4 linked regions of the Homo sapiens genome follow. The protein of the gene in region 3 purifies or fractionates together with the protein of the main gene of each other region. This does not show direct contact. Each region holds a gene or a part of one and is shown on either strand. Other genes may lie near its edges.

Region 1 (7,862 bases), on a different chromosome or scaffold from region 3:
ACTCCAGCCTGGGCAACAAGAGCGATACTCTGTCTCAAAATAAATAAATAAATAAATAAATAAAATAACAACACTGGAAAGCAGCTGAATTTTTTTTTTTTTTTTGAGATGGGGTCTTGCTCTGTAATCCAAGCTGGAGTGCAGTGGTATGATCACAGCTCATTGCAGCCTTGATCCCCTGGACTTAGGTGATAGCTGTAGTAGCTGGGTACCATAGGCATGTGCCACCATGCCCAGCTAATTTCTTTTTTTTTTTTCTTTTTTTTTTTTTGAGACAGAGTTTTGCTCTTGTTGCCCAGGCTGGAGTGCAATGGTGTGATCTCGGCTCACCGCAACCTCCGCCTCCCGGGTTCAAGCGATTCTCCTGCCTCAGCCTCCCGAGTAGCTGGGATTACAGGCATGTGCCACCACACCCAGCTAATTTTGTATTTTTAGTAGAGACAGGGTTTCTCCATGTCGGTCAGGCTGGTCTTGAACTCCTGACCTCAGCTAATTTCTTTTGTATTTTTTTTAGGGATAGCGTTTCACCATGTTGCCCAGGCTGGTCTCAAACTCTTGGGCTCAAGTGATCTGCCCTGCTCAGCTTCCCAAAGTGGTAGGATTACAGGCATAAGCCTGGCCCCTCTGATTTTTTACTTCAAGGTGGCCTTCTTTTTCTTCCCATTGCCTCCCACCCCTTTTCAAGCCCTTGTCAGCCATGCTGATGTTACTACCTTCTGTATTTTCTAGGAAGTGAGTGCTTTTGGTGAGGAAGGTGAAGGTGATTATCTGGATGACTGGACAGTGCTCTGTAATGGACCCTACTGGGTGAGAGATGGTGAGGTGCGGTTCAAACACTCTTCCACTGAGGTACTGCTGTCTGTCACAGGAGAACAATATGGTCGACCTATCAGTGGGCAAAAAGAGGTGCATGGCATGGCCCAGCCAAGTCAGAACAACTACTGGAAAGCCATGGAAGGCATCTTCATGAAGCCCAGTGAGTTGTTGAAGGCAGAAGCCCACCATGCAGAGCTGTGAATCTAGAGGCTCTGAGCCACTGTTAACGCACAATGTTCACAGACATCTGTTGCTGCCTCACCTTGGGATCCCTGCCACAAGTTCCTTGGGCAGTGGCCATGTCACCATTGAGATGAAGATATACAACAGAAAATAGTGGCTGTGTTTGGAAGCTTCAGCCCTGCACATTTGAACTAGTCACTCTCCCAGACTTGCGTGGGTCAGTTCTTTCTGAGTAGAGGACTTGCTGGTAAAGGGGCAGATGCTTTTTATTAGTACTGATAAAACAAACTGAGGGAAACATCCCTCTTAGCTGGGAAACTTTTACTCTTCAGGAGCTTGGCATCATGGACTGTTAATGTATGTGATTTTCCCCCTATTTTCTCTCTCCAAAATGATAAAAACAATAATTTTATTATGAGTCACTGTGTTGTTATTTATTAGGTGTGCTATTTCATTAGCTGCTTAATCCTTTGAGTCCTAAGACTCTTTGGAGACGCTATGAAGCTCCAATGTGGGCCCTTTTAAGAGCTTTTCTTGCATACAAACCTTTTCTCCCTCTACTTTGACTTCTCTCCAGGCATCTCATCTTTAATAGATCTTTGACTAATTATAGCTAAAAACTCTCAGAGAATACAGCATAATAAATAGCCAGTGAAATGTTTGCTTTGTATCTGTTACTGCAGATGAGAAAAAGGTGTAGGGGTAGAAAGAACGAACCAGTATTTATTCACTGCTAAATACTAGGTACCATATTATAGATCTTTTTTTTTATTTATTGTTTTTTAGACAGAGTCTCGGTCTGTCGCCCAGGCTGGAGTGCAGTGGCGCGATCTCGGCTCACTGCAAGTTCCACCTCCTGGGTTCACAACCATCCTCCTGCCTCAGCCTCCCAAGTAGCCGGTGCTACAGGCACCCGCCACCACGCCAGGGTAATTTTTTTGTATTTTTAGTAGAGACAGGGTTTCACTGTATTAACTAGGATGGTCTCGATCTCCTGACCTCATGATCCGCCCGCCTCAGCCTCCCAAAGTGCTGAGATTACAGGCGTGAGCCACCGCACCCGGCCTATAGATCTTACCTCATTTAATCTTCACAGAATTCATATAGGGTAATACTGCATTTTTATCAGTGCAGCAGTTGAGTAACTGCCTGAATTCTTTTTTTTTTTTTTTTTTGAGACAAGTTCTTTGCTCTGTCACCTAGGTGGGAGGGGCACAATCATGGCTTATTACAGCCTTGACCTCCTGGGCTCAAGTTGATCCTCCTGTGTCAGTTTTTGATTTATCGTAGAGATGAGGTCTCACTATGTTACCCAGGCTGGTCTGGAACTCCTGGGCTCAAGTGATCCTTATGCTGTGTCTTCCCAAAGTGCTGGGGATTACAGGAGTGAGCCACCATGCCTGGCCTACTGCCTGAATTCTTTTTTTTTTTTTTTTAAGATGGAGTCTCACTCTGTCGCCCAGACTGGAGTGCAGTGGTGCAATCTCGGCTCACTGCAACCTCCGCCTCCCAGGTTCAAGTGATTCCCCTGCCTCAGCCTCCTGAGTAGCTGGGACTACAGGCACCCGCCACCACACCTGACTAATTTTTGTATTTTTAGTAGAGATGGGGTTTCACCATATTGGCCAGGCTGGTCTTGAACTCCTGACCTTTTGTGATCCGCCCACCTTGGCCTCCCAAAGTGCTGGGAAAACAGGTGTGAGCCACCGTGCCCGGCCTGAATTCTTAAAACTAATAAATCATTTTGGAATAGGAATCCAGCTGTTTCTGACTCAGGTTTTTTTAAGTGCACTACGATTGTGTTTAGCTTTTGGAAAACAAATCCTGTTTTTTGGACAAACGTAGATATATCTCTCTAAAAAGGTGGATAGAAAACTACTTTTGTCCTCTGCCTACCTGATTTCCTCCTTTCCTGTGTCAATTGCAGAAAATTTGCTCCTGTAGCTTCCAATCATGGTATTGGTGAACGGAGATGGCTGCCATCTGCTGGAATTTCAGTGACTAGCAGGCTTTTTTTATTTTTAGAAACTTCCGGGTTTTGTTCTTTTTTTTTCTATTTGTTTTGTTAATGTTGAACATTTAGAGACACCATTTCTGTGCCAAACATGGCCCGTGACGTTAAAAGACTTGGTCTCTTTTACAAGGGCTTGTGGTCTCAATAAATGGAGGCCATGAATTAGTTGAGCCCCACTGTTGCCTCAACCACCCCCCACCCCCGACTCCCTGCCTTTATTCCACTTCACTTGTGTTGATCCCTTAAGATCTCTCCAGAAAGAAATAGACAAATCATAAAATCAACATTTTAGGCTATGAGATGGCTGGGAGTAGGGCCGGTAATAGTCAAGGGAGAAGGAAGGAAGTGACAGGAATCTTGGTTCAATAAACAGATTGGATAAGATGAACCAGAGTAGGGATACGTGTTGCACGGCACCCCTCCTTGACTTGGACAGAGGTTTTCAGTGAATTGGGCCTTCCCAGAGCATTCGGAGGACATACCCTGGGGGAAGGCTGCAGATGACGAGGAAGATGACGCAAATACAGTGCTTGAGAGGTAAGTATGACCTTGAAACAGCAGCGCTGGAGCTCTTGGGGAGATGTGAAATCACTGAAGAGAGGAATAGATAAGGGAGGAAACAATCAGAGGAGTGAAAGCAACTTCGGGCAACACACAGGTGAAAGATGAAATGGTGTTTTATCTGAGGGAGCCAAAAAGAGAGGCTCTGAGTAAAATCTTGAAGGATATATATGGAGATTAGGACGTGGGAGCGAAGGGGTATGAAAAGAGACATGACCTCCTCCATAATACTTATTTTGAAACCGTCAGGATTTCCTTAGCTTGTGCTGTATCAGTAGATCATCATTCAGATACTGATCCTTAGCACAGTAACGCTGAGGGACCTTTGTCCTGTTCTCTCATTTTACAGAGAAGGAAGCAGGCAAAACTATGTATTGTCTATTTTATGTAATTATGTTTGCTTCCCAGATAAACTACACAGAAGGAAGCAGGCAAAACTGACTATGTATTGTCTACTTTATGTAATTATGTTTGCTTCCCAGATAAACTATTTTTTGCTAAAGGGCAAGAACAATATTCACTACTTCTGCAGTATCTCCTCCTCTCCTCCATCAGGGCCCAGTTCGTGCCATAAGTAGATGGACCAGAACAGTGTTCAAACAGTAAATGAAGTAAAAACTCATTGGCCAGGAACCGTGACACGCGTCTTTAGTCCAAGCTACTCAGGAGGCTGAGGCAGGAGGATCCCTTGAGCCTGCAGGAGTTCGAGACCAGACTGGGCAACGTAGCGAGTCCTTGTCTCAAAGAAAAAAAAAACAAAACCTCATTAGTTTCCTCTGTGGATGGAATGAGGCGAGATTTTTGAGGCCTTTTAATTACCTCCTAGTTTCTGCCTCAGTAATTTTCAAACAGGATCTTGAATAAGATGGGAGTGCTACCACGTCTGACCAGGGGTGTAACTTCCGCAGAACCCTGAGTCCAGGCCTAAGTGGCTAGGCGGACTCCAACTCCCCTCAAAGTGAGCTCCCCGGACCGAAATGAGTCAGCCAGGTCCACCGCCAGCCCAGGTAGTGGGCCCGGACTCCGACCCCCGCGGGTCCCCGAGCCCCGCGGTTCCGGGCACCGTGGTGTGCGCCCGGGGCGTGTTTCAGCTCTTGGTCCGCTCCCCCTCGCCCTCCTCCCGGAACCACGCCCGCTCCTCGCGCACGCAGCCCGTCGGCCCTGCAGCGTCGTAGGACAGGGCGGGACTGGGGTGGGAGGCCGTTGGTTGGCTGGCGGGCTGCGGAAGGCGGGGCTCGTGTGCGCACCAGCGCGTCCTCGCTCAGCGTTGCTCCTGCGCGCGCAGCTGGTCGGCCCGCGGCGGTGCTGCGCGGATCCGGCGTCGGGGCCCGGCATGGCGGGGGCCGGGGCCAAGCCGGGCCGGACCCGGACCTAAATGCCTCTGTTCTTCTCCGCGCTGTTGGTCTTGCTGCTAGTTGCGCTTAGCGCCCTCTTTCTAGGCCGGTGAGGGTTCCCGGCCGCGCCGGCGGCGGCGGCGGCGGCGGGAGGGAGGGGGCGGAGAGGAGGAAGAAAGACTGAGGAGGGGGCGCGCGCCTTACTGAGGCGCGTGAGGCAGAGTGGGTAGGGTGGAGGGAGGGGGCGCGCGGCGAGGGGAGGGATCGTGAGGAGGCGCGTGGCCCGAGCTCCCAGGGATGGGCTGCGAGTTGGGGAGACTGAGGAAGCGGGCGGGGTCTGAGGAAATGCTGAGGCCAGGAACTGAATAGGAGTGTGAGGAAGGGGCCTGGTTCAGTGGCTTCCCTTTCCCCCTCCACCCACCCCTGCATGTCCCTTTCGCCAAGCGCGATGGGCACCTGCAGCATCGGTCTGGGGAGAACAGCATTCGAGCTGCCGGGTCTGACCTCAAAGTGCCTTCTCGTGGATACCTGTCTGGAGGGTGGGAGCAGGAGACAGACAGACCCTCTGGGGAGTGTGATGGCACATGTGACAGAGCCGCCTCCGCTTTGACTCTTGCTGGGGTCTTCTCTCTCTGCCTCTGGGATTCATAACAATTTGAGGGATTTTGTTTTTGTCTTCAACTTAGAGGGTGCAGTTTCTGGTTTCATCTGGGTGGAGGGGTCAGTCGGGAGCTAGGATCTTGATCAGCGTGGCTGAATGTATATGACAGAGTGGTGCTTTGGAAGAAAGGAGAGTTGCTCAGATCCAGTTTCAGGAACGACCTTTTGCAAGGCTTTGAAAGACCAGCAAGGGGTGAGGGAAACCATCATTGGAAAAAGGTCCTATGAATTAACAGGAATTTTTCTGCAGGTGGCTTGTGGTCCGGTTGGCCACCAAGTGGTGTCAGCGGAAGCTGCAGGCGGAGCTAAAGATTGGCTCCTTCCGCTTTTTTTGGATCCAGAATGTCAGTCTTAAGTTTCAGCAACACCAGCAAACAGTGGTGAGTTCTGGGAAACTCTGGATATGTGTGTAGGGTTGATCCAATTGAATTTAAACTCTTAATTTCCTTTTTTTAAAAATAGAAATCCTGGTGGCTTTTCTAGTTAATCCCAGCCTTGCCATTTCTTTGCCAAGATGATCTTAGAGCTAGTTGGAGAACGCTGCAAGTTGTTCAGTTAAAAATGTTTGTAGGACACAGAGTGTCCAGGGCACATAACAAAGATACAGAAGAAAGATAACAGGAAATCGAAGATTTTACTGTTCTAATTTAAGATGGGATTCAAGGCAACATGGCTATGAAAGAGAAATTCTAATAATCCAGAACATTTCCTGGCTTGTCAAGCTGCTCGTGGCTTATTTAGCAGCTAGCACACAGAGCTTTCTCCCTCACTGTTTTAGGAAATTGATAACCTGTGGATTTCCAGCAAACTCCTTAGCCATGATCTTCCGTGAGTACCCTATATTCTCACTTCTCCCCTAGAAGAGTACTTTGGAGTTGGTGTTTGCAGAGTGACACTCTTCTGCAGAGGCATCACAATCCAAGGAGGAAGGGAGGTTGTTGCTGAAGTCTTCCTGTTAGCCTGGGTGCCATTGTGTTGTGAGGAAGATATTGATAACTGCTATGAAACTAATCTCTGTGATTTGAGCTATATTTCTAGGAAGGATGAGAAAGTGAATGTGAGGGTGGGGAATAGACTGCTATGGGAGGGATGGACCTGGTGGCAGTGAGATTTCTCTTCTGGGCAGACACTATGTGGCATTGTGCTTTGGAGAAGTGCGTATCAGAACGGACCTACAGAAAGTTTCTGACCTGTCTGCCCCATTCTCCCAGAGCGCTGGGGTGGATCAAAAGGAACTGTCCTTCAGCCCATCCTTATTGAAGATCTTCTGCCAAGTGAGACAACTTCTCCTGCTATCCTGGACTGTACTTTGGCATGGTTGGCTTTGGAGTTATGGGTAGATTTTTCTGTTTTTAGGGCATAATGCTAAGAGCTGCCCCTCTTTCTCATCTGGAAAGGAAGGGCAGTTCCTTAACATTAATTATTGTTCATCCTTGCTTCTTCCTTCCAGCTATTCTCCATTCATGTAGATGCTATAAACATCATGGTTCTCAAGGTGGATACCTCTGAGTCCTTATGGCATATTCAGATCAGTAGAAGCAGATTTCTTTTGGATAGTGATGGGAAAAGGTAAGCACTGGGGAGCAGAGGATCTAGCCGTCCTATTCTTGCCTCAGAGTTGCTTCAGGGCCTCCTTATCAAGGTGTTAAGTTCTCATTCTGTGCAGTTGGAGGAGATGCTAAGATTAGACATTTCCAATTGCCTTGTCCCTTCTAGCCACCAGAGCTTGACTGGAGGTAAGTGGTGAGGAAAGGGACCAAGTTCTCTTTTTTTTAAATTTTTTTTTTGAGACAGAGTCTTGCTCTGTTGCCTAGGCTGGAGTGCAGTGGTGCGGTCTTGGCTCACTGCAAGCTCCGCCTCCTGGGTTCAGACCATTCTCCTGCCTCAGCCTCCCGAGTAGCTGGGACTACAGGCGGCCGCCACCGCGCCTGGCTAATTTTTTGTATTTTTAGTAGAGATGAGGTTTCACCGTGTTAGTCAGGATGGTCTTGATCTCCTGACCTCATGATCCTCCCACCTTGGCCTCCCAAAGTGCTGGGGTTACAGGCGTGAGCCACCGCGCCCGGCAAGGCCAAGTGCTCTTAATTTTTTTCCTTTCCCAGGCTAATCTGTGAGGTGAGCTTATGTAAGATCAACAGCAAAGTTCTAAAGAGTGGTCAGCTGGTAAGTATGCCATGATCATTCAGATGCCTCATTTCCTCCTGGGCGTAAAGTGTGAAGGAGCTTAGGGCTTACATCCTAGGTTCTTTGACCTTAGGGGGTTCCCTCAAGTCAGTACCCAGTGTTCCAGATCA
Region 2 (7,017 bases), on a different chromosome or scaffold from region 3:
TCCTTATCATCTTGACGCTGAGTAGGCTGAGGAGGAAAAGGAGGTAGAGGAAGGGTTGGTTTTGCAGTCTCGGGGTGGCAGAGGCAGAAGAAAATCTGAATGTAAGTGGACCCTCACAGTTCAAACCCGTGTTATTAAAGGATCAGCTGTATAAGTATATTGATAGTGGTTAACAATAGGGGAAAAGTGTTTATGTATATTAATGTGCACGGGGGTGTATCACCTTACACATTTTAAAAATTCTGAAATTGTCTAGGTTGTACTAATTATTATGGCACTTGATATTTCCATTTAACCATATCTGAGAGTTTTTTTTCTGTGTCAACAAATGTAGATCTACCTTATGCTTTTTTATTTTTTTATTTTTTTTGAGACGGAGTCTCGCTCTGTCGCCCAGGCTGGAGTGCAGTGGCGGGATCTCGGCTCACTGCAAGCTCCGCCTCCCGGGTTCACGCCATTCTCCTGCCTCAGCCTCCCGAGGAGCTGGGACTACAGGCGCCCGCTACCACACCCGGCTAATTTTTTTTTGTATTTTTAGTAGAGACGGGGTTTCACTGTGTTAGACAGGATGGTCTCGATCTCCTGACCTCGTGATCCGCCCGCCTCAGCCTCCCAAAGTGCTGGGATTACAGGCGTGAGCCACCGCGCCCGGCCTTACCTCACGCTTTTTAATGGCTGCGTGGCATTCCAGCCTATGGATGTACCATAATGTAATTAGCCCTTCCCTTATTTATGGACATTTAGGTCACTTCCATTTGCATTGGATGTTTCAATAAGCACTGCCATTGAACATCCTGGTAGATGCGTGCATGTATCTTAGTAGCCATATGTGAGTTAGTTTCATATGTCAAATTCGTGGAATCCCTGGATAGGTAGGGCAAAGTGTATGTGTTTTTTTTTTTTGTTTTTGTTTTTTTTTTTTGGGGACGGAGTCTCGTTCTGTTGCCCAGGCTGGAGTACAGTGACGCGATCTCGGCTCACTGCAAGCTCCGCCTCCCAGGTTACGCCATTCTCCTGCCTCAGTTTCCCGAGTAGCTGGGACTACAGGTGCCCGCCACCACGCCTGGCTAATTTTTTTTTTTTTTGTATTTTTAGTAGAGAAGGGGTTTCACCTTGTTAGCCAGCATGGTCTCGATCTCCTGACCTCGTGATCCGCCCACCTAGGCTTCCCAAAGTGCTGGGATTAAGTTGTGAGCCACCGCGCCCAGCTGTGTATGCATGTTTTAAATTTTGTTGAAGCTGGGTGCAATGGTTCACGCTTGTAGTCCCAGCTACTTGGGAGGCTTAGGCAGGAGGATCACTTGAGCCCAGGAACTGAAGGCTGCAGTGCACTCTCATCGGGCCCGTGAATAGCCATTGCACTCCAGCCTGAGCAACATAGTGAGACCTCATCTCTATAAACAGTTAAAAATAAATAAATAAATAGATTTTGGTTGCTCCCGCCAAATTGCCCATCAAAAAAATTGTTCTGATTTCCTCTTCCATCAAAAGTGTTTGTGCTTGCCAGTTCCCTATACTCTTGCCAAGATAGAATATTATCATCTTTTTTTCCCCAAACCTAATGGGCAAAAACACTAGTGTGATTTTTCCCAATTAGAAGAGAGATTATTCTTTTTATATGTTGGTTGGCCATTTGTATTTCTTTTGTAAATGGTCTTTGCCAGTTTCCTAAAAATTGGCTTATTTTCTTCACATTCATTTGAGAAGTTCTATGTGTGAATACAGATATTAATCTCTTGTCTGTTATGTAATGTCGTGCATGTTTTCCCATGCTGTTATTTTTTCTGCAGTGTTCAAAAATAAGATCCCAAAGTGACTGGGTAGGTGAAATTGTTGCATAGAGGGGTGGGTGGGAGTTATGATGAAGCTGAGAGCTATCGCCCCACCAAAAGAGGGCTCCACCTCTCAACCATGGCTGGTTACTTCTACGGGGAAGGGAGGAAATGTTGCCAGACATCCAAATATCCCTTTATTTTTTCTTTTTTAAAGAAATGGGGTCTTGCTTTGTCACCCAGGCTGGAGTACAGTGGTGTGATCATAACTTACTGCAGCCTTCAACTCTTGGGCTCAAGCAATCCTCCTGCTTCAGCCTCCCCAGTAGCTGGGACTACAGGCATGCAACACCATGCTTGGTTAATTTTTTAAAATTAAAATTTTTTCTTTTGTAGAAATGGGGGCTATGTTACCCAGGCTGGTCTTGAACTCCTGGCCTCAGGTAATCCTCCCACTGTGGCCTCCCAAAGTGCTAAGATTACATGCCACCATGCCTGACCCTCCATTATATCTTCTAATTGATTATTGATGCTGTATTGGAAATTGTACCCTTCTTTAGTTCCCTCTGCTTTGACTCAGGTATGACATATCTCCTAGGAGTTCCTTCCCGAACTCTGGCTTGGGCTGAGTGTTCCGTGTCTGCTCCTCTAGCATCTCATGCACATTCCCCGACTTGAATTGAAATTCTCTGTTGTTGTCTCTCTGCCTTCCGATCAGGAACTAGGACTTACTCAATGCTTATGTATAGCCCTACTCCTAACAAGATGTCCAATAATAATAGGTGCTTAAAATACGTGTTTTCTTTAAAAAAAACTATGGAATATATTTTTACATTATTGTAATAAAAGTTAATGTATAATTTTATATTTCGCTTTATTTGTAACACTATAGTGAACATTTTTACCTTGGTAACAGTCATTATATTTATTTAGAGTAGCTGAGAAATAATGAGAGACATCATTTAATTGAACACTTAACTCTGCAGTAGGTACTGTTCCCGCTGCTTTGCATGAATTATCTAACTTATTCTTCACAAGGGCTGTTAGGCAGGTTCCCATTCTAAAGAGACAGAAAGTGAGGCACAGAGAAGTAAATTGCTCAAGGATGTGTAATAAGTACAGCAACCAAAATGTAAATATCCATTGAGTAGTTATAACCACTTAAATTGTTTATAAGTTTTGGATTTTAGACTTGCAGGGACCATCTTCATGCACATTTCCCCCCTTCTTTAAAAAAAATTATTTCCTTCTAAAAAATAGAGCACAGATCTTTTGTGGTACAGTGCTACTTTTCAAAATTTCATCATGTGTGCCTCAGCTCCACGACAGCCTTTAAGCCCAGCATTCTTCTAGTCACTGTTGGATGTACAGAAACTGATGACGTAATTGCTGCCCTCAAGAAGTTTAAAATTGAGTTTAGGTGATGAGACAAGTAAAAATGAAACCTAGCACAGAGTTTTTCCTGGATGAGGCATCCAATACAGGTTATGCATGCACTGGAAGAAATTTGGAACCTTGAGAAAGAAAACCAGATTTTGGCCTCTGGCTATGCAGAATTTCACATCTACTTTGATTCACCTTTGTCGGAGACTGCTTTGGGATGTATCAGTATTTTACTTTGATAAAGGGGTCAAATGTAGAGCAGTTCACTTTTCCCAGGGACTGAATAGTGCAGTGATCCAGAATCTTAAATAGCAGGAACTCTGGGATTGAAAGAGTTTTTTTTTTTTTTTTTTTTTGAGACAGAGTCTCGCTCTGTCGCCCAGGCTGGAGTGCAGTGGCCCAATCTTGGCTCACTGCAAGCTCCGCGTCCCGTGTTAACGCTATTCTCCTGCCTCAGCCTCCCGAGTAGCTAGGACTACAGGTGCCCGCCACCATGCCTGGCTAATTTTTTTTTGTATTTTTAGTAGAGATGGGGTTTCACTGTGTTAGCCAGGATGGTCTCGATCTCCTGACCTCGTGATCTGCCTGCCTTGGCCTCCCAAAGTGCTGGGATTATAGACATGAGCCACCGCGCCCGGCCAATTGAGAGATTTTATAAAGCCTTCTGCACTCTGGAGAAGATAGTGGGTGCTATATGACCATCAGAGGGTAAAAAAGAAATGTTTTGCTCTGTAGGCCAAGTGTGCAACACTGCCTGATGGTCTGAACGTGGGTTTGATCTCACAAATTGTCAGGATGTAACTCTTCACACATAAAAGCTTGTGAGACCTCTAGGCACGGCGGCTCACACCTGTAATCCCAGCACTTTGGGAGGCTGAGGCAGGCGGATCACCTGAGGTCAGAGGTTCGAGACCAGCCTGGCCAACGTGGTGAAACCCTGTCTCTACTAATAATACAAAAATTAGCTGGGCATGGTGGTGGGCACCTGTAGTCCTAGCTACTTGAGAGGCCGAGGCAGGAAAATCGCTTGAAACCGGGATGGGGAGGTTGCGGTGAGCCAAGATCAGACCACTGCACTCCAGCCTGGGCAACAGAGTGAGACTTTGTCTCAAAAAAAAAAAAAAAAAAAGCTTGTGAGATCGAGGGTGCTTGCTTTCCCTTTAATCAGTGATAACTTGCAGGAACTGACCACTGTTGCAGCAGTTGGTTCATTAAGGTTCTCCATTTCCAGAGCTTTCTCTAGTCTTTTCCATTGCCCTGCACTTTAGCTCTGAAAATGGAGTTGGAGTGAGTCCTCCTGTTCCATGTGTGAATACAGCAAGGCTGAGAGAGAGACTTTAATAAACAAGTGTCTCCTGGCAGAGATGGAATTGCAGTTGTCAGCCTTAGCGTTTGCTGAGCTGTCCCTTCTCCTCTCAGCCAATGTTTACCATTTTTGGAGCATTTCTGTGGTTGATGTTGTAGTAGAGCCTGGGAATAGTGCAAGAAAGAAAACTGTACGTCTATTCACACTCCCCCCCAACTCCCCATTTAATTTTGGCCAACAGTTTAAATTGCTTTTTGCATCTTTGCTTTTGGAGTTTCTTAGAGCTGGGCATAGGTTGCAACAATGACTACCTCTATTTTCTAACCTTTCCCCTTCTCCCCTTCCTAGTCCCTAGGGGAAGTTAATGCGTAGGGACATGGCAGAAGGCAAGTAGATGAAGGGGAAAGAGGAGACAAAAGGACCTGGATGGCCCACAGACTTAAGCAGTCGTGTTCTGAGTGGTTGAGAAAGGACTTTTGAAAGGATCTTGGCATTTTGTTCTAATTTTTACTCTGATGGTAAGCAAACTTCTTTCTCTACATAGGGGGTCATAATGATGGTTTTCATTTCTTGAGCTCTTACTCTGGGTCAGGTATTGTAGTCACAACTTGAGGTGTCACTTCATATTAATGCTCACAACATCTCTGTGAGGTAGATGTTATTAATCCCATTTCCTTAAAGTGGAAACTGAGGCTCAGTGAGTTTAATTACCTTCCACATAATCACAGGGCTAGACTCGAAGCCACCCAGACCTCTGTGTCATCTTGCCTTCCTATGGTTGTATGTAGCTACTGTTAATCCTTGAGATCTGCGTGCTGGTGTTAAGCATGTTTCATGTTACTTAGCTTTTAGGGGTTTAAAGAGCTTTTTAAGCCACGCACGGTGGCCTAGCTACTTGGGAGGCTGAGTCAGGAGGATTGCTTGAGGCTGGGAGTTCAAGGCTGCAGTGAGCCATGATCAGGCCACTGCATTCCAGCCTGGGCAATGAAACGAGACCCTGTCTCTTAAAAAGCTCTCCTTTTAAAAAAAATTTTTCTTATAAGTGACCTTGAAATTCAATTGTGGTTTTATCCAATTTTCTCACTTAAAACAGAAATTCTAATGATAATATTTTTATTTATTGCAAGGAACAAGTATATAGCTATGATAGATGACTTGTTACTTGGTCTTGAAATTCTTCTTTTTACCTCGTGAACATAGTGTGTTAAATTAAGAAAACACTGTAGAGATGATAATTTTGAAAAGTAGTTGATAGCTTGAATTTATACCTTTACCATTCAGGAGGTGAAGAGTGGAAGAATTATTTTCAGAAAGTTGGAAATGAAGCAGTAAGTGATGAGAATTTGTGGATGAGAGAGCACAAAACATCACAGTCAGTGACTGTTGCAGTTGACAAATGAGAAACCAACGCTCCCAAGGTTAAGAAAAACTTAGACTTAGGACACCCAGAGAAGCACTCCCTAGAATGCCAATGGAGAAAGACTTATCTCTGCAAGTGCTGTCCTTTTCAGCTCTTACTGCATGCCAGATATTGTGCCCTTCTTATCCCTACTTAACAGATGAGAAAACTGAGGAACAGATCAACAGATTCAGTAATTTGTCTAAGGTCAGACAGCAATTGATGTGTGATGTCTGAGACTTCCCTGTGTAAGCCTGGACTCATAACCTTTAGCAGTATGCCTCTTTATTAAATGGTCTGTTTTTAGGTGGCAATTTCATCTTAAAACAAATTCAGCATTAAAAAGTGTTTCTCTTCAAGTGAATTTGAGCGTGTTGGGGTCTGGAGAGATGGAATCATTTACTTTAACTGCCTATTCATTGGTCTCAAAAAGAAGCCCCTTACATGTTTGCTTAGGACAAATGATTATGCTGGATAAATACTAAAAACTGTTTTGATCTTACAAAATTTACTATCTGTGTACCTTTGGGGAGCAAAAACAAATTGCGGCTGGGAAAATTTAGTGCTTGTTTACAAGCTTTATTTCCTTTGGTTCCCCAAATTTGCACACACAGAGAGGGCATCATGGTTGGATTTTAAGGACCATTGGCAGCAAGAAAGGTAAGCAGCAGGAATCAGGGACCCCCCAGTACCTGCCACCCTGACGTCTGTTGGCACAAAAAAGTGGGCTGGCTGGCTGGCTGGCTGGCTTTAAGGGACAAGACGAGGCTCTTGATGAAGAGTACTCTATTCACGCTCTGATTGGAAAAACAAACTAAAACACATTTAGATATAAACATGATAGGAACCTTTAAAAAATCTTAACTGTTTAGTAGGTGCCTATTACTAACCTAGTTTCCATAGTGTAATGCATCAGTTTTATTGAACACTTTTTAGGGGATCAAGCATGGGCTTCTTGTTTACTGCTTCTTCTTAATCTACTCCCTTATATAAGTTTTTTGTGTGTGCATAGCCTCTACCTCCATTCTTTCTTAGTATATTATTATTTTTGAAGACATCATTGTGTTGGGGTTGGATGTGGTCTTGAAATTCACTTGGTCTAGCACCTTTATTTCAAACACTAGAAAACAGAAATTTGAATGATAGTATTTTATCTC
Region 3 (7,898 bases):
AGCCACTGCACCCGGCCATTTTTTTTTTTTTTTTTTTTTTTTTGTTAGTAGAGATGGGTTTCACCATTTTGGCCAGACTAGCCTCGAACTCCTGACCTCAAATGATCCACCCGCCTCAGCCTTCCAAAGTGCTGGGATTACGGGAATGAGCCACCGCCCCTGGCCCAGTTTGGGGCCTTTACTCTTCCGATCATGGTGCTCGATACTGTTGGGTGGATGGCTGGTTTCAGCAGACGTTTGTGGCACAGGCCCCGCTCCTGGCACAGAGCGGAGGCTCCACGACACTTGATGAAGCAACGGTGGCCCAACCCCTGCCAGGATGAGGGTGGAGGGAGGAACTGTTTCCTTCCTCAGGAGGCAGCCACAGTCCAGTCCCAAAGCTGCCGCCTCAGGCAATCGGCTTCCTCCCTGGGCCTCAGTTTCCTCATTGGTGCAATGGGGCCAGCTGCAGTTATTTCTTCCCAGGGGGGTTGGGAGAAGTGAATACACAACCACTAGGTCTACCTGGGACGTGGTCTGCCTGGGCTTGGTCTGCCTGGGACGTGGTCCACCTGGGCTTGGTCCGCCTGGGACGTGGTCTGCCTGGGACGTGGTCCGCCTGGGCTTGGTCTGCCTGGGACGTGGTCTGCCTGGGACATGGTCCGCCTGGGACGTGGTCCACCTGGGCTTGGTCCGCCTGGGACGTGGTCCGCCTGGGACGTGGTCCACCTGGGCTTGGTCCGCCTGGGACGTGGTCCGCCTGGGACGTGGTCCGCCTGGGCTTGGTCCGCCTGGGACGTGGTCCGCCTGGGACGTGGTCCGCCTGGGACGTGGTCCGCCTGGGCTTGGTCTGCCTGGGACGTGGTCCACCTGGGCTTGGTCTGCCTGGGACGTGGTCCACCTGGGCTTGGTCTGCCTGGGACGTGAGAATGAGCTGTCAACACACCTCTCTGCCCCGGAGGGAGTGGCGCGTGTCATTCCTTTAGGAGTCCTCTCGTCTCATGTTTGCCGAGGCCCCCAGGGTTCACGGGGACGGGATCCTGAATTGAAAAAGGGGCTAAGAGAGCTCACGGAACCAAGCCCACACCTGTCGAGGTCCCTGGTGAGAGGAAATGGGAGAAACGGTGCCGTCTGTGGAACCAGGGTGGCCGGTGGGGCCTGGGGCAGGGTGCAAGTGTGTGCATTTGTGTGCAGCAGTGTCAGTGCCCACTGGCCGATTTGATCAATGTGCTACTGCCTTCAGGGAAGAGCAGCCTGCTTTTTGGTGTGTTTGGGATAAAGGGGTGGCCGGGCACTCTGGCTCACACCTGTGATCCCCACACTTTGGGAGGCCAAGGTGGGAGGATCCCGTGAGCCCAGGAGTTGGAGATCACTCTGGGCAACATAGCCAGATCCTATCTCTACAAAATAAAAATTTAAAACGATTAGCCTCACGCCTGTGATCCCAGCACTTTGGGAGGCTGAGGTGGGCGGATCACCTGAGGTCAGGAGTTGGAGACCAGCCTACTTAACATGGAGAAACTCCGTCTCTACTAGAAGGACAAAAATTAGCCGGGCGTGGTGGCACATGCCTGTAATCCCAGCTACTTGGGAGGCTGAGCCAGGATAATCGCTTGATCCTAGGAGGCAGAATTTGCAGTGAGCCCAGATCATGCCACTGCACTCCAGCCTGGGCGGCAGAGGGAGACCCATCTCAAACAAAACAAAACAAAACAAAACAAAACAAAAAAGATGGGGTCTCCATCTGTGGCCCAGGCTGGAGTGCAGTGGTCCGATCTCAGCTCACTGCAACCTCTGCCTCCTGCTCAAGTGATCCTTCTGTCTCAGCCTCCTGAGTAGGTGGGATCACAGGTGCCCGCCACCACACCTGGCTAATTTTTGTATTTTTAGTAGAGACACGGTTTCACCATGTAGCCCAGGCTGGTCTTCAACTCCTGGACTCAAGTGATCCTCCTGCCTCAGCCTCTCAAGGTGCTGGGATTACAGGCATGAGCCACTGTCCCCGGCCTAATTCTATTTTTGTAGAGACAGGGTCTCACTATGTTGCTCAGGATGGTTTTGAACTCCTGGTCTCAGGCGTGAGCCACCTCGCCCTGCTTAGTTTGATACAAAATCCCTACGTTCCTTCTCATTCCCACTGTGTTTCCAGCACCTGCTTGAGCCCAGCACACAGTAGACACTCGGCAACTGTTGGTGCATTTGGGAATCTACTGAACACCTACTGGTGCGCTGGGTATTGGCCTCACATATGGGGAGACGCCATTAATAACCCACAGATGTGAGGATGGCTGTGGGGGATGGAAAGGGGGCTCTGAGAAGTGGGGTGCAGTGGTGGATGGGGCAGCCTCCTAAAAACCAGGGGAAAGGGCCGGGCGCGGTGGCTCACGCCTGTCATCCCAGCACTTTGGGACGCCGAGGTGGGCGGATCACCTGAGGTCAGGAGTTCGAGACCAGCCTGGCCAACATGGCGAAACCCCAGCTCTACTAAAAATACAAAAATTAGCCGGGCGTGGTGGCGCATGCCTGTGATCCCAGCTACTCGGGAGGCTGAGGCAGGAGAATCGCTTGACCCCTGGAGGCGGAGGTTGCAGTGAGCTGAGATCGCACCATTGCACTCCAGCCTGGGCAACAGAGTGAGACTCCATCTCAAAAAAAAAAAAAAAAAAAAAAAAAAGCAGGGGAAGGAGAGGGGACTTGGGGAAGGGCACAGCCTTGCAAGGCCCAGAGGTGGGAACCTGCTTAGCCCACCCAAGGGGGCCAGTGAGGCTGGGGAGGGGTCAGCGAGGGGCAGGTGACTCGGGGCAGGCAGCAGAGCACAGAGAGGGCTGAGGAGGTGCCAGCGGTCCTCATGTCTGCTCCGAGCCAACGGAAAACCGTCAGGTTCTGCCGCCTTCTCAGAGGTTAGGCCACTTGCCTAGGGACACACAGCCAGTTCGTGGTTTGGCGTCGTTTGAACCAGGCCTGCTGCTCCTCCTGCACTTGCGGAGCGTGAAGGCTGGTGCAGGGGCTGCGTCTGGCAAGCCTCGCCCCTCCCCAGCCTGGGGTTTTCCTGGATTCCCAGGGACGGGGCCCGTGCGCTCTCTGGTGGTCAGAGCAGGAATGACTGGATTCGCGCTGCTGCAAAGACGACTGGAAGGAGGCTGAAGCCCCTGTCCCCAACCTCTGGACATTCAAAACCCTAAATGCAGGCCGGGCGCGGTGGCTTACGCCTGTAATCCCAGCACTATGGCAGGCCGAGGCGGGCGGATCACCTGAGGTCAGGAGTTTGAGACCAGCCTGGCCAACATAGTGAAACCCCGTCTACTAAAAATACAAAAATTAGGCGGGCGTGGTGGTGCCCAGCCTGTAATCCCAGCAACTCGGGAGCCTGAGGCAGGAGAATCACTTGAACCCGGGAGGCGGAGGTTACAGTGAACCGAGATTGCGCCATTGCACTGCAGCCTGGGCAACAGAGCCAGACTCCATCTCTAAAAAACAAACAAACAAACAAAAAATCTAAATGCACAGGCTCCAACTCTTAATTCCTCAACAGTCTCGCTCCAATGCCTCATTTTGCAGGAAGTCCAACTCCAACCAAATCCTATTCATCCCTCAGCCCTGGTTCCAATGTCCTTACCCCTCGGAAGCCCTCTCTCTCTTTCCCCAGGCAGAGCCAGAGTCACCCTTGAGTTCCACGCTCCTGTCCAATCTCATGGGACTGGGGGTATCTGCGTGCATTCAGCATAGGGTCTGGTGTGCAGTAGTTGCTCAATGAGTGTTGAGTGAAGAAAGAAATACACGCATGAGGCCGGGCGCGGTGGCTCATGCCTGTAATCCCAGCACTTTGGGAGGCCGAGGCGGGCGGATCACGAGGTCAGGAGTTCAAGACCAGCCTGGCCAAATATAGTGAAACCCCGTTTCTACTAAAAATACAAAAATTAGCCGGTGTGGTGGCGGGTGCCTCTAGTCCTAGCTACTCGAGAGGCTGAGGCGGGAGAATCGCTTGAACCCTCGGCAGGCGGAGGTTGCAGTGAGCCGAGATCGGGCCATTGCACCCCAGCCTGGGTGACAGAGTGAGACTCCGTCTCAAAAAAAAAAAGAAAAAAGAAATGCATGCATGATTGGGCCAGAACTAACCTCAGAAATGATCCTGGCCTGTGCTGGGTGATGATACCGTTTCTACTGATTAAATTTGGAAGCAGGGGTTAGGTTTCCTGCCTTCTCCGCACCCGAGAGGCGCCTGGGCCGTCAGCCCGTGGAGCATCTTGGAAACAAGGCCACAACCCACAGACCTCAGCCTCTGTCTGACCCCACGGGTCCCAGTGAGGCCCAGACAGCGCCCTGAGCCCCGGGTCTGCCTGTATTCCGCAGCGCTGAGGGAATGCCTGCTGTGTGTCAGGCGCTGCTGCGGGTCCAAAAATCCCTTTGCTGCGCAGCTGACCTGACAGTGCATCGGGAGGGAATCAGTGCCACGGAGCAGGAGGGCAGCAGAGAAGACCTTGTAAGCTGACATTTGAGCAAAGACCTGGAAGAAAGCCACGCGGGCGTCGGGAGAGCGCTGCACCGGGCAGCGGGCGGGGGAGAGGGCGCCTGGCGAGCCCCAGGAACGGTGGGGACAGTGGGCTGAAGTACCGTGAGGGGAGACGGCGATGAGGTAGGGAAGCACTGAGGGACACGAAGGCCTGGGCAGCTTCGGGAGGGGAGGAGGGCCTCGGCCCCGCCCCGCGCACGCCCCGCTTCTCGTCTCTTCCGCCGCCTGCTTTGGCCCCGCCCCCGCCGGAAGCCCCGCCCCCGCTTGGAGCCCCGCCCAACGGCCGGGCCTAGTTTGTCTCTCAGCGGCCACCGTCGCCCGGGCCGCTGCCCGCCGAGTACGCAGCTTTCGCCGCTCCCGCGCCCCCGCTCCGCCCCGCGTGCCGTGCGTGCCGTGCGTGAGCGTGCGCGGGCGCGTCGGCCGGCGAGGGAGCAGCAAACGGCCGGCGGCGGGTGCCGCGCGGGGGGCGGGCGGCGCGGAGTAGGTGGCGGCGGCCATGGCCGAGGCGTCGCCGCATCCCGGACGGTACTTCTGCCACTGCTGCTCCGTGGAGATCGTCCCGCGCCTGCCGGTGAGGCCCGGGCCGGGGCGGCGGGCGGCAGGGTCTGCGCCGCAGGCCTGAGGCAAGGCCGGGGCCGGGGTGGGGGTCGCTTGCGCCCGCCTCTTGCGCGAGCTGACCACGACGGGAAAACTGAGGCTCGGGGCAGCGCCGGCCCAGGCTGAATCCGCGGGGAGCCCGGGCGGTGCGCGCGCGAACCCCGTCCTGTACATGCGGGAGACTGAGGCCCGGGCGGGAGGCAGGGCCTGGCCGGAGCGGCGCAGCGGGATCGCGGCCGGGTGACCCCACATCCGCGGCGTTCCCGACCCGAGAGGCCGCGAGGATCCCAGGTGGGATCCCTAAGCCCGGTGAGCCTGGTTTTGCAAACGGAGAAACTGAGGCCCGGCGAGCAGAGAGAGGGTATTGCCCGGTGGCGCGGCGCGGGGCAGGGGCTGGGCCTGGCGGGGCTCGGACCCCGAGAATAACGCCAGGGGACCCCCGCCGAGCGCGTGGTTGGGGGCGCCGGCGCCTCGCTGCAGGCTCGCCTCGTGGAGCCCTGGCCGCCGCCTTGGAGGCAGGCCCAGGCCCGGAACGCCCCAGGCACTGTCCCGGGGTCCGACCGCGGCCCGCCGGCGGGGCTTTGTGAGCAGAGCCTGCGTTCCTCCCCTCCCGGGGCTTGGCTGCGCAGCCCACCCTTCCTCCAGGTGTTTACAGCCGCCCCTCACCGAAGAGGACCCTGGGCCTGGGCGTGCCGAGTGCTACTTCCTGCTCGTTTAGGGCAGTGTTTCCCACGCGGACCTGATGTCACCTTGGGGGAGGTGGGAGCAGCGCTCGTTGAAGGTGCTATTTCCAGGCCCCTTTTCCAGGGTTTCGGAGTCAGTAGGTGTGGAATGCGCTCAGCAGTCTGCATTTCTAATATTATTTTTAGGAATGGGGTCTCCCTGTGTTGCCCAGGCTGGTCTTGAACTCCTGGGCTCAAGCGATTCTTCTGGCTCAGCCTCCCAAAACGCTGGGATTACAGGTGTGAGCCACCGTGCCCGGCGGTGGTCTGCATTTTTAACCCGTGTTGCCCTTCGCCAGGCTGACGTGCAAAGTGGTGATTTAGTCGAGCCACCCGTGCTTTATAGATGGGGAAACTGAGGCGCGTGGTGGCTCAGCGGGAAAGTGGCAGAGCCGGCTCAGTCGGGAGCCGCTTGGCCAGCTTGAGGGGAGCAGCCGCAGGAGGTGGAGGGGTCTGGACTCCCCACCCTGTGCCCAGGGGAAGAGGCTGCAGGCATTGAGGATTTACTGTGCTGTGTACGTAGCCGCCCGGCTGTTGCTACGCTTTGACCCGTAAGAGAAGTCCAAGCCCCCCAGAAGCAGTGCAGTTCCCCGGGAGTAGAGACCCAGGAAGGGGCTGGAGGGAGTCAGGAGAAGCCGCCTGTCTCTGGGTCACAGAGGAGGAGCGAGTGCTAGAGTTGGGGCATGGCGGGAGAGCGGGGCCAGGCCCAGGAGTGGAAAGAGAGAGGTGTGGTTTCCTCTCTACTGAAGCCACAGGGCTTCCCCTCCCCAGCAGGAGGAACAAATAAAGTGAAATCTCGGGTGTGGGGCGAAGGTTGGGGAGCTGAGACTGAGCCTTGCCTTACTCCTCTGTCTCCCAGGGGTCTCGCTCTTGCCTCTTCCAGCTTTCTGTCCCCACTGGCCGTGGCAGGAGAGGCTGGTTGCCTGACAGCCCGCCAGCCTGGGTGAGTTGCAGGGCAGCCCCTTGCAGCCCCTTGAGCCCTGGGACAGGCCTGGGAAGCCCCTGGGAAGCCTGGAGTGGTGGCTGTGGGGGGCCGACACTGCCTTGACTCGGCTGCACATTTAGCTGCTCCTAGAGCCCGCACAGGACTGGATCCTGGTGTGGTGGAGCCACTTCCTCGCCCCGTGGCCTTGGACACGGAGGACCTTGACCTCCTCCGACTGTCACTGGGCCTGGGGAGGGCCTTCCTGTAGTGAAAGGAACTCTGTGGTGACAGGCCGCTGTGGTCTTTGCCCTCACAGAATTTACAGGCTGGCCAGGGAGCCAGCATGGAACAGTGATTGACAAATATTTAATCATGGACGTTGGTAGATTCCTTAAGAGCAAATAACTGCAGAGAGGGCTGCGGGGGCCTGCCCGTGTCCACCCCGCGGGTGATCCCAAGGGCATCTGCTTGTGCCTTTGGAGCAGGACGCAACAAGGCGCCCGTAGACAGCATGGCAGTGTCAGAACTTCTCCGTACGTGGCAGGACCCTGTCTCTACAGAAGACTAAAACAATTAGTGGGGTGTGTTGTTGCACTCCTGGAGTCCCAGCTACTGGCGGGGGCTGAGGTGGTGGGAGGAGCGCTTGAGCCTGGGAGGTGGAGGCTGCGGTGAGCCGTGATGGTGCCAGTGCACTCCAGCCTGGGTGACAAGCAAGACGCTGTCTCAAAAACGAATTTTTTATGCTGGGAAATGGGCACACCTGGCGTTTGTTCTGGGGAGGGACGGCTGCTCCGTATCTGGCAATGGGGAAAGTCCCCAGCCACAACCAGTGCCCTCGAAACGGGGCGTCTCTGCCGCTGGGGAGCTTGCCCGGCGGCTGAGTCAGGGGCGGCACTGCTGCTGCTGAGACACCTGGGCTGGCTGTCGGGAAGCTCCTGCCTGCCTCTGACGCAGGGGGGACTGGCTGCCATGGGCTGTGTGCCTGCCCACGAGGGCTTCTCCCAGGCAGCTGGGCCGTTCCGGGCCTCCTTTGCTGTCCTGGGCTCTGGGATCAGGCTGAGGCCCCGCGCAGCTGGGTCATTCTCTGCTGGGCAGCCTTGGCCTCAGTCTCCTCACCTGCCAAGTGGGTTTAGTGATGCGATTCGCTCCCCGTGGCATCTGGTGG
Region 4 (7,017 bases), on a different chromosome or scaffold from region 3:
GGCCCACAGGGTGCACGGAATGGGGTCTGTGGGAGGATGGGGGCATCCTAGCCCAGGGCAGGGACCCCGTGGGCCCCCCAAGATGAGCTGCGTCAGGCTGTTGCTTTGCACACTCTGAGGGGCCTGCCTGAGTGCTGCATGGGAAGCCAGCAGTGTGGCCGCCCTCCCCAGAACTCATCCAGGGCACCAGGGTGGACCCATGAGTCCCGTCGGGTCATGGGCATCAGCCTCGCCATCCTGGCCTCCAGATACAACGATTTGTCAGATTCCCTGAGGTCAAAGGGAAGCTTCAAGGGTTGCCATCCCCGCCTCCCTGGCGGTCCTAGACGGGATGTCAGGAGGACGCAGGGCCATCGCTGCTTTTTAAATGTCACAGTGACTGCAGCGTCTGCTCCTCTGTGGAAGGAGCTTGCTCCGCTAATGAGGGAGTTCCTCCTCATGGCCTTCCCCTCACTTCTCTTCAAAAAGTTGCCCTTTATTTTAACATTTTTTAAGTTTTATTTTTTTGAGCCAGGGTCGTGCTCTGTTGCCCACGCTGGAGTGCAGTTGCAATCATAGCTCGCTGCAGCCTCAAACTCCTGGGCTCAAGTGATCTTCCTGCCTCAGCCTCCCAAATACTGGGACTACAGGTGGGCGCCACCACACCCAGCCTCTGCCCTTTGTAAGTGAAGTCCCCCAGGCAGGTTGAACCTCTTACACCTTCTGCCCCTGCCTGATCCCCACTCCCTACCCCCCACCTCCCTGTCCCCTGTAATGAGAAAGGCAATAAGTTTTGGAGCTTTCTGGAGTTCCTGCCCCTCCTGAAAAGGTGGCTGCAGAGAGGCTGGAGCTGATGGGGAAAGAGGTGCCACGAGGCCTCCTCTGGGTTAGGGCCACACGGCTCCCAAGGCCCCCGTCTCCTTCTCTGGGGTGACAGGTGCCCCCAGGGCCACACGGCTCCCAAGGCCTCCGTCTCCCTCTCTGGGGTGACAGGTGCCCCCAGGGCCACACGGCTCCCAAGGCCTCCGTCTCCTTCTCTGGGATGACAGGTGCCCAGGGCCACACGGCTCCCAAGGCCCCCGTCCCCTTCTCTGGGGTGACAGGTGCCCCCTGTGTCCCAGAGGCTTCTGCTTGGCCACCAGTGAGGTCACCGGGCTGCCCAGACCAGGGCTGCTTCTGCCACCACATGGCAAGCAGAGAAGTAGAGAAGTGCCAAAAACCACGAGTGCTTGTCTGGTCCTTTTTTCCTGTTAAAAATAGAAGTCGGGGCTGGGTGCGGTGGCTGACACCTGTAATCCCAGCCCTTTCAGAGGCCGAGGCAGGTGGGTTGCCTGAGGTCAGGAGTTCGAGACCAGCCTGACCAAAATGGCGAAACCCCATCTCTACTAAAAATAAAAAAATTAGCTGGGTGTGGTGGTGTGTGCCTGTAATCCCAGATACTCAGGAGGCTGAGACTGTAGAATTGCTTGAACCTGGGAGGCGGAGGTTGCAGTTAGCCGGGATGGCACCACTGCACTCCAGCCTAGGCGACAGAGCTATACTCCGTCTCAAAAAAAAAAAAAAGAAAAAAAAGTAGAATTCGGTTGGGCTCAGTGGCTCATGCGTGTAATCCTAGCACTTTGGAAGGCCAAGGTGGGTGAATCACATGAGGTCAGGAGGTAGAGACCAGCATGGCCAACGTGACGAAACCCCCATCTCTACTAAAAATACAAAAATTAGCTGGGCGTGGTGGTGTGTGCCTGTAATCCCAGATGTTTGGGAGGCTGAGACACTAGAATTGCTTGAACCCGGGAGGCAGAGGTTGCAGTGAGTCGAGATGGCACCACTGCACTCCAGCCTAGGTGACAGAGTGATACCCTGTCTCAAAAAAAAAAAAAAAGCCAGCCGCTGTGGCTCACGCCTGTAATCCCAGCACTTTGGGAGGTCAAGGCGGGTGGATCACCTGAGGTCAGGAGATTGAGACCATCCTGGCTAACACGGTGAAACTCCATCTCTGCTAAAAATACAAAAAAATTAGCCGGGCCTGGTGGCAGGCGCCTGTAGTCCCAGCTACTCGGGAGGCTGAGGCAGGAGAATGGCGTGAACCCAGGAGGTGGAGCTTGCAGTGAGCCGAGATCACACCACTGCACTCCAGCCTGGGCAACAGAGCGAGACTCTGTCAGAGAAAAAAAAAAAAAAAACAGGTGATGCCTGTGCCACTGGACACACCTGCACACCATCCTCATGCTGATCACAAAAGAGGGTGAGGGGCCGGGCATGGTGGCTCATGCCTGGAATCCCAGCACTGGGGGAGGCCGAGGCGGGTGGATCACCTGAGGTCTGGAGTTCGAGACCAGCCTGACCAACATGGTGAAACCTCGTCTTTACTAAAAATACAAAAATTAGCTGGGCACGGTGGCGGGCGCCTGTAATCCGAGCTACTTGGGAGGCTGAGGCAGGAGAATAGCTTGAACCTGGGAGGCGGAGGCTGCAGTGAGCTGAGATTGCACCACTGCACCCCAGCCTGGGTGACAGAGCGAGGCTCTATCTCAAAAAATAAAATAAAAAATTTAAAACCAACAAAAAAGAGGGTGATGGCTGAGTGAGGAGTCCATGGTGGGCCCTACACAGGGCCCAGGAAGGACAGGGCGGGAAGCGTGAGCATCCTGCCCACCGCAGTGGGTCCGCCATGGAGAGCATGACCTTAGAGAAGCAAAGCCGCCTGGCTCGAAGCAGTGGCCGCCCTGCTGACAGCTGTAGTGGCCGGGTGGCACTCGGGCTGGGGTCCGGGGGAGTCTAGGTGGCCACCTGGCTGTGTGCCTGTGCCTGCCCAAGCTGGGCACCTTTCCCTGGCAGTGCCTGGGAAGCTCGGCCGCCCTCCCTGGCTGGTGCTGCTCTGCAGCCCCGCTCATGGACTCTTGCCCACGGCCTGCTCCTTGTAGCAGGGTCGGGCCGTGGGAGGTCCGGACAGGATCTTGAATGGCCCTGTCTGCGGTCCTGGCTGGCCGGAGGTTGACCGCACTGGACAGGTCAAGGGCCTTAAACCAGGGTAGTGAGGAGCCTGCTGAGCCCCTGCTGCTCCCCGGGCTGCCTTTGGCGCTCGGACAGACACCCAAGGACAGAAGCTCGGACAGCTTCTAAGGCGAAGGGTCTCCCGGGGCTGATTTCCCGGGACTCTGGCTCCTGCAGAGAGGGCTGGAGGCGGGGCTCTGTGTTCCAGGGTCAGAGTCCTCCTGGTGGAAGCTGAGGTGCCTGATTAAATGCCTCCCTTTCTAGGCAGCAGCCCAGACGCGGCACAGAGAGGGCCTGGGAGCTTGCTGCAGCTTCAGGTGAGTTTGTTCCCAAGCCCTGCGGCTCGTTTATGGGTTTGCTTGCGCTGCAGAACTGTTTGTGGAGCAGCAGGGTTGGAGTGCCCACGGCTGGGGGGCCTCTCGGAGCCCTTGATTCACAGAACCCCTGGAGGCCGGCAGCCCTGCCTGCCCTGAAGAGCCTCGTTCTCCCAGCCGTTTGGGCCGTGGTCCTGTCGTGGGAGGCGACGGTGAGGGCGGCCCGGGGTCCCGACAGGGGTGTTTGTCCCTTTGGGGACCTCCCCTGTGCTGTGGCCCCGGCCCCCAGATGGAGCTCCCCATCCCCACGGCAGCGCTGGGGCTGGGGCTGGTGAGGAGCCTGTGCACGGCCCCCACCGCTATCCTCAGCCAGGAGGGTGCCTGGTCCCTGGGGAGCGGCCTGCACCTGTTTCTGGAGAATGCTGTCCTGCCAGTTGTCATTTGGGGCGGGCGGTCGGAGTCCACGTCCTCCCCCAGGGCGGGGCCCTGGCCTTGTTTCTTGTAGGGACGATGGGAAGCCCTGTCCTCAGCCCTCCCACCCGACTCATGCAGGAGCTTCCTGTCCTTGGGGTCATCTCCTCCACAGGGGCCTTAGCGTCAGTGGGGACAAAGGCAGAGTTGCCTGTCTTCAGGTTGTGGGCACCGACTGAGCTTCGTCCCGGTAGTGGCTGGCTCTTGTTTCCTGCCTGGACCAGCAGCCTCTGGTCTGGTGGGTGCAGTTTTAGGGCGCAGTGGGGTTGCCGTGGGGCAAGGCCAGGCCACCAGCTGCCTGGACACAGGGGCCCCCGCTTTCCATCTGCTGCCCCCCACACCCCCAGCTCGGGCAGGGGTGACACCGGGGCATCCTTGTTGGGGTCGCTGTGGTTCCCATGGTGGCAAGATGGCTCTGTGAAAGATTGACGGAGATGTAGGGCCCAGGAGCAGGTGCTGTGTGAGTGGGACACGCCTGTGTCACCTGCGGGGCAGGGGAGGGCTCGGGGGTACAGCCGTGTACATGATTAGTTAGCGAGACAGTGAGGAGTGTATGCGGAGTGGACACAGCTGTGGGTGCCGCCCGCGCAAGGCTGGGGGTCGCTGTGCCAGCCCTGCTCCCATGTGGGCTCCCAGCTCCCCAGGTAGGGACGCTGACCCCGGGAGGTGCCTTTGCCTGCATCCACTGGAGCCTCAGGAGCATGCGTTCCGTCCCCACGGGTCACCCCCACTGAGCCCACCACCTACCGAGAGGCACCTCGAGACCCTGTCCTGCCACGGGTGGGCTGTCAAGGCCAGCACCAGAGACCCCCAGCAGACCTCAGTGGCCGCAGATGGAGCGGGGCGGCAATGGTCACCTCCGGGACTCAGCCCTGTGCTGAGCCCCGGGCAGTGTGATCATCCTGGCCCTTCTCGTGCACGTCCCCTGGCTGGATGCTCCTTGCTGCCCTCACGGGGTGTGTGTGTGGCATACAGGACAGGGACCGGCCAGTTGGCCCTGCTCATTAACCACTTGTCCCCACAGGGCAGTGGCGGCCTCACCTCTGCAATTCTCTGAGGCTGGATCTAGGCCACCGCCCCGTTTAAAACTAGGGCATCGGCTCCCAGGGAGGGCGGGGAGCTGCACAGTTGGACTTGTGGGGGTCAGGCATGGATCCACACAGCCCGGGGCCCTCCGCACCCTGCCCCTCCAGGGAGCCCAGAGGCGGGCGTGGCTGCAGCCTGGCTCTGTGGCAGTCATGAGTCACGGCCACTCTTGAGGCGCCGCCCTGAGAGTCAGCCCTGTGGTCACGGCTCCTGCTGGTTCCCATTCGCGAGCACCTGAAACAGCCTGGCCCACAGCAGAGGCCCGGGGGGCACATGCAGCTCACGGGAGCAGCACAGATGCTTGGCCGGCGGCAGGCCCTACAGGAGCAGCAGCGGCCCAGGGCATGTCCCTGGGGTCAGGGGTCAGAGTTCGGCATGCTCTGCGGGGGCCTCACCCTGCTGTCCCTCGGCCTGGCCTGGGCACACTCCTTGGTGACAGTGCCCCTGCACGCCCCCCCCCCCCCCCGGTTATTCAGACAGGGAGCCAGGATGGGAACCACGGACTGACCTGACCTGCGTCCTCGGGGCCACTGCACTGGGTGATTCACGTGTGCCCAGGCCCTGAGGTGGGCCGGACCTGGGAGTGGCAGGTGAGCGTTCCTCCCAAGAGCCTCTGGCTGGCCGCAGCAGGCCCTGTCCCTGCTGTCCTCAGTGGCCCTGGACATGATAACCCCCCTGCCGAGGTCTGGCCGGAGCCAGCACCCACGGCCGAGATGCAGTCAGCCCTGGCTGGGCGCTGTCCCTGGGGGTGGCTGCTGGTGCTGCCCTCCCTCCTTCCCACCACTTCTTGCTCCTCTTTCCTGGGGCCCTCCCATCGGAGTCTTCCTCCTAAATGCAGTTCCCTCCCTCTAGGGGAACGCGGGCTGGGAGCCTATTTTTTTTTTTTTTGAGACGGAGTCTCGCTCTGTCGCCCCGGCTGGAGTGCAGTGGCGCGGTCTCGGCTCACTGCAACCTCCGCCTCCCGGATTCAGGCCATTCTCCTGCCTCAGCCTCCCAAGTAGCTGGGATTACAGGCGCCCGCCACCACGCCCAGCTAATTTTTTGTGTGTTTTTAGTAGAAACAGGGTTTCTCCATCTTGCGCAGGCTAGTCTTGAACTCCTGACCTCGTGATCCACCCACCTCGGCCTCCCACAGTGCTGGGATTACAGGCGTGAGCCACTGCACCTGGCCTGGGAGCCTTTTCCGTAGCTGCTCATCCTGTACTAGCATCTGTCCATCATGAGTGGACGGAACACAGGGGGACCCAGGACCCACAGCTGCACTCGGGAAGGCCAGCAGGGTGGATTTCGGGAAGAGCATCGGTGCCAGTTTCCCACAGTCACCCTTGCGATGGGACCCTCAGGTTGGCACGTGGCTGGCAGCTGTGTCCCGGGAGCTCTTGCTCCTTAGTGGGCCTCGCCAGCCAGGGCAGGGCCCCCGGCACCCCTCACGGGGCTCTTGACTCCTCTGGCAGCGGATCGGGGCGGTTCAGCGATACCATCTCTGGAGATCCCCTGGCGTGTGCTGGAAAAACCCCGGAGAGGGCTTAACAGAGCCAGCTGTCCAGCCTCTGTGACAGGGACGTTTGCTTTTCTCTGCAGGGTCCTCTCTTCTCTTCCGAGCACCCACGGGAGGGGACTGTGCTGTCCCTGCTCTCCTAGGACAGGCCTCCCTCCTGTCCAGATGGGGCCCACAGGGTCAGTTGCCTGAGACTGGCTCCAGCTCAAGAAAGGTTTTCTGAGTGAGCGCAGGGGAGCAGGAGGCTGGTGAGCAGCTCGCTTCCTGCCCTGGGTGCAGCTGGGCACCACTTCTGCCTTGGGCCTAAAGGCATCAGTGAGGAGCAGGCGGGGCCTGGTAGGAGCCTGTGTTTCTAGCGGCACGCGTGACCCCAGGTGCCACGTGGGTGAGTGCGTGGGTGGGTGAGTGGCGAAGGAGCTGAGGTTGGCCCTGGCAGGTGTGCAGTCCTCACACAGAACGGGCAGGGCTCCTGTCAGAGCCAAACCAGCTCAGGGCCCAGTGCAAGCAGCTTCTGTCCCGTGGCACCTCCGCTAGTCGCCGCTCCCACCCAAGCCCTGCCCCGCCCTGACCCGCTCAGGGTTTGGCTACAGAAGGGGAGTGTCGGAAATGCCCAACCCGTCTCCCGTGAGGGACTCCTGCGTGGCCTGGGCTGGGGAACGCAGGGGCCGTTTGGGTGGT

Evidence for each region.
Region 1: the proteins of RNF126 (region 3) and BLTP2 purify together in Homo sapiens (affinity purification with mass spectrometry; 3 studies listed by BioGRID and IntAct, with this or other methods). This does not show direct contact.
Region 2: the proteins of RNF126 (region 3) and KLHL42 purify together in Homo sapiens (affinity purification with mass spectrometry; 3 studies listed by BioGRID and IntAct, with this or other methods). This does not show direct contact.
Region 4: the proteins of RNF126 (region 3) and CAPN15 purify together in Homo sapiens (affinity purification with mass spectrometry; 3 studies listed by BioGRID and IntAct, with this or other methods). This does not show direct contact.

Annotation. Positions count from the first base shown.
Region 1 is NC_000017.11:28,642,144-28,650,005, reverse strand, and holds the start of BLTP2 (bridge-like lipid transfer protein family member 2 isoform 1 precursor), read left to right. Parts: upstream 1-4,847; 5' UTR 4,848-4,949; coding exon 4,950-5,017; intron 5,018-5,818; coding exon 5,819-5,948; intron 5,949-6,346; coding exon 6,347-6,396; intron 6,397-6,694; coding exon 6,695-6,842; exon of another isoform or gene 6,843-6,904; intron 6,905-7,018; coding exon 7,019-7,137; intron 7,138-7,670; coding exon 7,671-7,731; intron 7,732-7,862. Other genes in the region: SDF2 (stromal cell-derived factor 2), read left to right, coding at 730-1,017. UniProt on the Homo sapiens protein: Tube-forming lipid transport protein which binds to phosphatidylinositols and affects phosphatidylinositol-4,5-bisphosphate (PtdIns-4,5-P2) distribution.
Region 2 is NC_000012.12:27,783,230-27,790,246, forward strand, and holds part of KLHL42 (kelch-like protein 42), read left to right. Parts: intron 1-4,809; exon of another isoform or gene 4,810-4,979; intron 4,980-7,017. UniProt on the Homo sapiens protein: Substrate-specific adapter of a BCR (BTB-CUL3-RBX1) E3 ubiquitin-protein ligase complex required for mitotic progression and cytokinesis. The BCR(KLHL42) E3 ubiquitin ligase complex mediates the ubiquitination and subsequent degradation of KATNA1.
Region 3 is NC_000019.10:660,209-668,106, reverse strand, and holds the start of RNF126 (E3 ubiquitin-protein ligase RNF126), read left to right. Parts: upstream 1-4,892; 5' UTR 4,893-4,985; coding exon 4,986-5,060; intron 5,061-7,898. UniProt on the Homo sapiens protein: E3 ubiquitin-protein ligase that mediates ubiquitination oF target proteins. Depending on the associated E2 ligase, mediates 'Lys-27'-, 'Lys-29'-, 'Lys-48'- and/or 'Lys-63'-linked polyubiquitination of substrates.
Region 4 is NC_000016.10:530,712-537,728, forward strand, and holds part of CAPN15 (calpain-15), read left to right. Parts: intron 1-3,234; 5' UTR 3,235-3,287; intron 3,288-4,604; exon of another isoform or gene 4,605-4,657; intron 4,658-5,317; 5' UTR 5,318-5,431; intron 5,432-5,925; exon of another isoform or gene 5,926-7,017.